2 separate regions of the Homo sapiens genome follow, and region 2 is linked to region 1. Evidence: fine-mapped expression QTL. A gene starts in region 1. The other region holds a variant in brackets. All regions are shown on one strand. Distances are from middle to middle.

Evidence for each region.
Region 2: its variant is fine-mapped to the expression of LARGE1 in nasal epithelium (TOPMed, PIP 0.99).

Annotation. Positions count from the first base shown.
Region 1 is chr22:33,919,289-33,922,189 of GRCh38, reverse strand. LARGE1 (LARGE xylosyl- and glucuronyltransferase 1) reads left to right here and starts at 1,714. Exons shown (of 15, transcript NM_133642.5): 1 at 1,714-2,195. LARGE1-AS1 (LARGE1 antisense RNA 1) reads right to left here and starts at 965. Exons shown (of 2, transcript XR_001755630.2): 1 at 667-965. RefSeq lists silencers at 847-1,346, 1,667-1,816, 2,087-2,186.
Region 2 is chr22:34,097,983-34,100,883 of GRCh38, reverse strand. The region is part of intron 2 of LINC01643 (long intergenic non-protein coding RNA 1643); the gene reads right to left. Among named protein-coding and RNA genes, the nearest start is that of LINC01643, 82 kb to the right of the region's middle. The variant C/T (reference allele first, on the strand shown) is at 1,423.

The DNA of each region.
Region 1 (2,901 bases):
TCCCCTGCCCCTTCCAAGAACTAGGGTGGGCTTCCCGCTGCCTCGCTCGAGTCCTGGAGAGCGGAGAGGCGCGCAGAGGGAAGGCAAAGACCCGGCGGCCCGCCCGGCTGGGGAGAGGTGGAGACCCGGGGGGAAGGGGACCCCAGAAGCCCTGGGACCGAGCTGCGGAAAAACCCGGGAGCTGGATCGCGCGCCCGGAGCTCCGGTCTCCGAGTCCGAGTTGTGCAGCTCTCGGCGTCCTCTTTCTCTCCCTGCCTCTCTGCTTTCGCCTCCTCTGGGTCTTCTCTCGAGGGCATCCTCCTTCCATCCATTCTCACACCCCCGCTCCTGTGCCCCGACCCATTTCACCCACTTCTCCTGTGGCTCGGGAGGACTCTCCGTACCCCCACCCTGGTCCCTAGAACTGGGAGGCTGGAAGTCCATTCAAGGGATGTTGCGCGCCGGGTTCTTATGCCAAGAGGGAAAGAGCGAGAATAAAATCAGCAGGGGAGGGGCGTGTTGTGCGTGCATGGGGTGTGTGTTTGGGGTGGAGGAAAAAGAAATGTAGTTTCCTCAGAGGAAGAGGAAGCCTTGGACAGGATTCTTGGATACCGATCCCAGAAAGATGCCGTCAGAGCCCTTCGGCGGGGCTCCTCACAGACTCCGGCTGCCCCACAGCATGCCCACCTCCGAGAGAAGCTGCGACCCGAGGCGGGGAAACTTCCTACTTCTCACGACGGCTGTTTTGTGCAATTTGGGGAGCAGGCTGCATGGTCCTGCAAGCCTGCGAGCCTCTCTACCACGGCAGCTGCGGGCCCGTCCCGCTTCCCTTCCCCCTTTTTCCGCGAGGCACGCCAAGCCCGAGGCGGCCGGGAGCCGCCGGGGTTGGGGGAAGAAGGGCGGGGAGCTCCCAGCTTGCACCCTTTCATCCCGACCCGGCCCGGGATCCCGGCTCCGGGTGTTGCTTCCGCCTGCCTGCCAGCCAGCGAGCTGAAGAAGCACCGGGGCGGAGTCTCGCCGGGGGGCGGAGCCTGTGCGGGGGCGAACTCTCGGTCCGCGCGGCTGCGGCGCTTGCCATTGGCCGGCCGCTCGGTCACGGGGTCGGGGGCGGGCGCCGACGCGGGCGCCGGCCCCGCCCCCGCTCGGAACCCAGCCCCGGCTCGCGGTCCCCCCCGGCTGCACAGACATGACACAGACACACAGTCACTGCAGCTGCTGAGCGAGTCCGGCGCTCTGGGCACGCGGAGGCGGCGGGGCCAGCCCGGAGCCCGGACCCCAGCGCCCGCCCCTGCCGGTTCCCGCGCGGCGGCCCACTCCTGGCCGGGCGCGGGAGGCGGGGATCGCGCGCCGGCTCCGGCCAGCGGCGCCCGGCTGCCCGCGGCGGCTGCAGCGGCCGCCCAGCTCCGAGCGCCGGGCGCTCCGGGAAGCCGGCGCATCTCGGAGGCGGCGGCGGCGGCCAAGGCCGGCGAGCGCTCCCGGCGGCGGGGGCCGCCCGCCTCGGCTCCCCGCACCCACCGCGCCGCGATCCACTCGCCGCGCCTCCGCTCCCGTGACCTTCCCGGGGCGCCTCCCCTAGCCCCGCGCCCCCGGCCCCGCGCCCCAGGCCGGGGCGAGGCCTTTTCCGGCGCTTCTTTCCCGCGGAGCCGCGGGCGGGCGGCGCAGGCCCTGGGGGAGAGCGCGCCGCGGCCGGTTGCAGCCCCCCCCGCGCCGCCGCGTTCGGCGCCCGGCCCGGCCAGTCTGCTCCTGCCCCGCCGCCGCGCCGGAGCCCGGGCGCCCGAAGCTGGGGGCGCGGCCGCGCTCGTCTCGCCGGGCTGTTCGCGGGCAGGCCCTGCCCTGAAGGGACGAATCGGCTTGGAGCGCGGGAGGTGGAGTCGGCCCCGGCGGTCGCTCCCTGGACCCAACCCGAGGCTGACCCAGGCCCCTGCCCATGCGGGGCGCCCCTGGCTCGGAAGAGTCCCCCGGGCCGGGAGCAGCTCCAGGCAGCGGCCCCGGAGGAAGAGGAAGAAGGGACAGTGCTCAGCTTGGGGGACCCGGACCCTCGCCGCGGCATTTGGAGCCGGGGGCAGTCCCGAACTCTGTGCTTGGCACCGCCGCTCCGAGTAGGGCAGCGCCTGCCGGGACCCTGACCCGGACCCCCTGCGCCTCGTAGGCGGCGGCGCCGCCGCGCCACCCTGTTCTTCCGTGTCTCCCTCTGCCTGGCGGCAGTCACGGCCAAGGTAAGAGCCCCGGAGCGCGAGAGTCGCCGCGGGGGCGCCGTGGTGTGTAGCGCCGGACAAGTTCTCCGAACCTGTGGCTGGTACCCCCTGTACTCGGGATGCCGGCGGGGAGGCCGGGCACACCCTCTGCTGCCCCGGCCGGGAGCCCTGGAGAGGCTGGAGGTGGAAGCCCCCAGTCTCCGAAGTCCCCAGGACCCCCTCAGGGCCTGCTCGGCTTCTGGGCACACAGGCTGCTGGCAGGGAGCGAGCCAGGAGGAGTTTCTGGTTAACACCACGAGGGCATGTGACCGATACCCGCACCCCCGGCCCTCTTGTTAGCGGTGAGCACCTGTGGTTCGCGGAGCCTGCCGTGTTTGGAGAGGGCCCTGTTGGGCGGTACGCAACTACCTTTCGTGGTGTGATGCTGTGAATAACTTTTCTTGTTCCTTCTTGCAGACAGTCCTGCGCAATTTGGGGGCGAGCAGCCACAGCTTGCGAGTCCCTCTTTAGGACAGAGTGGTTGGTTGGCATTGCTATCTGTAGGGGGGAAGCCCAGCCAGCATGTCCTTCCTGTTAGTCAAAGCTGCTTGTGAGGAGTGATCAGTGTATAGCTATCCAGACATTCTTGTAAATGTCACTGCTTTTGAAGTTTTGGAGTGAGGACTCCAAAGTTTGTGTATCCTCAAGTTATTTTGTTCATTGCCTTATCCTCTTTTAAATGTTCCTC
Region 2 (2,901 bases), 180 kb before region 1:
CTCTGTATCCCCAGGCTCCAAACAATGCCTGGCATAGAGTAGAAATTCAACAAATATGCATTGCATGAATGAATGCTTGCAGGAATTAATGAATGGTGGTGGTAATACAGCCTCATGGTTAGAACTACAGGCTTCAAAACCTGACATCTTTGAGTATGAATTCTGGATTGAACATTTAGTAGTTACCTGAACACAGGCAAGTCAGTGAACTGCTCAAAGCCTCATTTTCTTCCTTTGTAAAACAGGGTCAAATATAGTATTTATCTCGTAAGGTGGTTATGAGAATTCAATGAGAACAACACTGGCCAAGTACTAAGCACAGTGGCTGGCACATAACCTCAGCAAATGGGCATTACAATTATCCTCCTATTTTCCCCTATTCTGTAATACTCTTCCTACTATTGCCAATTAATGGAAACTACAATTCTTTTTTCTATCTTACCTATAGAAAGTCTTCCTGAGGAGACTCTGGTCTAATTGATTCTTTCTCTATTGCCATATTGAAGTTCCATCTGCTTGCAAATTACTGTAGAATAAGAATAGAATGACAATTTAGTTAGCATCTACTATGCTCAGGCATTTGATATATACTGGATTATCTCTTTCACCCACATGGAACTCTGCCAGGGGGAAGAGCAGACAGTGGCAATTGTGCCGTGATATCTGTTTGAAACGCTTGTTCTTCAGTGCTGTAAAGAAATAGCACTTGAACATAAATCTCAGCAAAGCTATTTTTATACTTTCTGCAGAAAGGGTACACTCACCAGCAGTTTTGCCATGAGAGTACACTGAACAAAGGAGACAGGGTCATTTATAACCTGACGCTTCCACCTTACTGCTGTGTCCGGTTTCTACTGGCTGGAATGGGACCTCACATTCTGTATTTGCCTTGATTGGCTAGCAACTTAGAACTTTTTAAAAGAGGCAAAGGCAGGGGAGAACAAAGGAAGGAGGAAGTAACTTGTGGAATGCTGAGAAAGGTAAAAACACCTTCAGATAAGGAAGAGGAACAGGCTATGACTTAATGCTTGCTTGGACTAGTATAAGCATGCCAGGGCAAATATTTAGGCTAAATTGTGGGAGCTAAGAACATAAAGCACATCGATTTCTTTATTATGGCTAGCAGATATTTAAGAATATTAGCACAGGTCTTTGAATAAATTTTGCTTTTAAGAGAAGTTGCTATTTATTCCTAATTAGACTGGGAGGAAAGTCTTTGAAGAGGAACCTCTACTTTATTTTTCATGTATCCATTCTACCTTCTTTTTTAGTGATAGAGTCATAATTGCTTGGGGAAGGAGGAGCAAAGAGAACATTTCTCGGACTCCCTGGCAGTCAGTTGTGGCCATGAGACTAAGCTGTGGCCAATTAGATAAAAGCAGAAGGAAACTGGTTCAGCAGGAAAACTAGCCTATATTTGTC[C/T]TTTCCCCCACCCCACCCACACAGTTCCTGCAACCTAGAATGTGGAGGTGGGGGTAGGGATGGTCCTTAAAGGTAGCTTGAATCTTGAGGTGAACATGAGGATGGATGAACATGAGGATGGTGGGGCAGAAAAATAAAAGAAACTTGCACACTAGCCCTAGAATCCCTACCTACACACTACATTTCTGGGAGAAATAAAAACCGCATTTCTATTTCATTCAAGTCAGTGGTATCTGAGCTTTTCTATGATAAGTAGCAAACCCTAATCCTAACCTTTACTATAGGCATCATAAGCCCATGGTATTAATGAAGACTTGGAACTCAGGAAGAGTGAATAATTTGTCCAAGATTACACAGCTAAAAAGCCACCAACCTGGTATTTGAATGTTGATGAACTTCATTCTAATAAACAAGTTTTTTCCATTAATCCTGCAAGTTAGGTCTCAATTCAGGGCAGAAAGGATCTCAGAGGGGTTTACCTCCAACCCTCAGGCAATAGGGAATCCTTTCTCCAGCATCCCTGAAGACCACCCCAGCCTCAGGCTTAATGGCCTCTGGGGACATAAAACTCATGACTCACTGTTCAATCCTTTATTTATTTATTTATTTATTTATTTATTTATTTATTTATTTTTGAGATGAAGTGTCTCTTTGTTGCCCAGGCTGGAGTGCAGTGGCACGACTCCAGCTCACTGCAACCTCTGCCTCTCAGGTTCAAGCAATTCTCCTGCCTCAGCCTCCTGAATAGCTGGGACTGCAGGCACATGCCACCACACCTGGCTAATTTTTGTATTTTTAGTAGAGACTGGGTTTCACCATATTGGTCAGGCTGCTCTCAAACTCCTGACCTCAGGCAATCCACCCACCTCGGCCTCCCAAAGTGCTGGGATTACAGGTGTGAGCCACCGCGCCCGGTCCTCAATCCTTCATTTTTCAGAAAGCTCTTCTTTGATGTAACAGCTGAAATTGACTTTTTTTATAATGTCCACGCCATAATTGTGAACTTTCAAACCAGTGAGACCTTGTGGTGTCCACTTGGCTCTTCAAACCTTTCAGGACAGCCTTCAGGTGTCTCTTGGTCTTCTGTATGCCAACTACAATGAATCCTCATTCATTCATAACACAGAGGAGGGATGCTTATGTGCCAAACACTGGGCTATGCACTGAGGCAGATGTGCTGGCTGACCTCAAGGAGTTTGTAGTCTAACGGGACTCCCTAAAAGGGCGTGGTCTCTTTTGGTCCCATTTAACTGTGCCAATTTCTTTCGGAAGAATGGTTCTTATGAGTAGTGTTTCCAATTATGGGGAGATAGACTCATAAACTTAGATTCTTTGTGTCCACCTATCTTAGCCCCTTTATATTTTCTTTTCTTTTATTCTCATCATACTCCCCCTGGAGAACTCAATCGTGCCTGGAATTTCAGTGGTAACCTAAACGCCAACCAATCCCAGGCCTTTATCTCTAAACTCTCTCTTAGG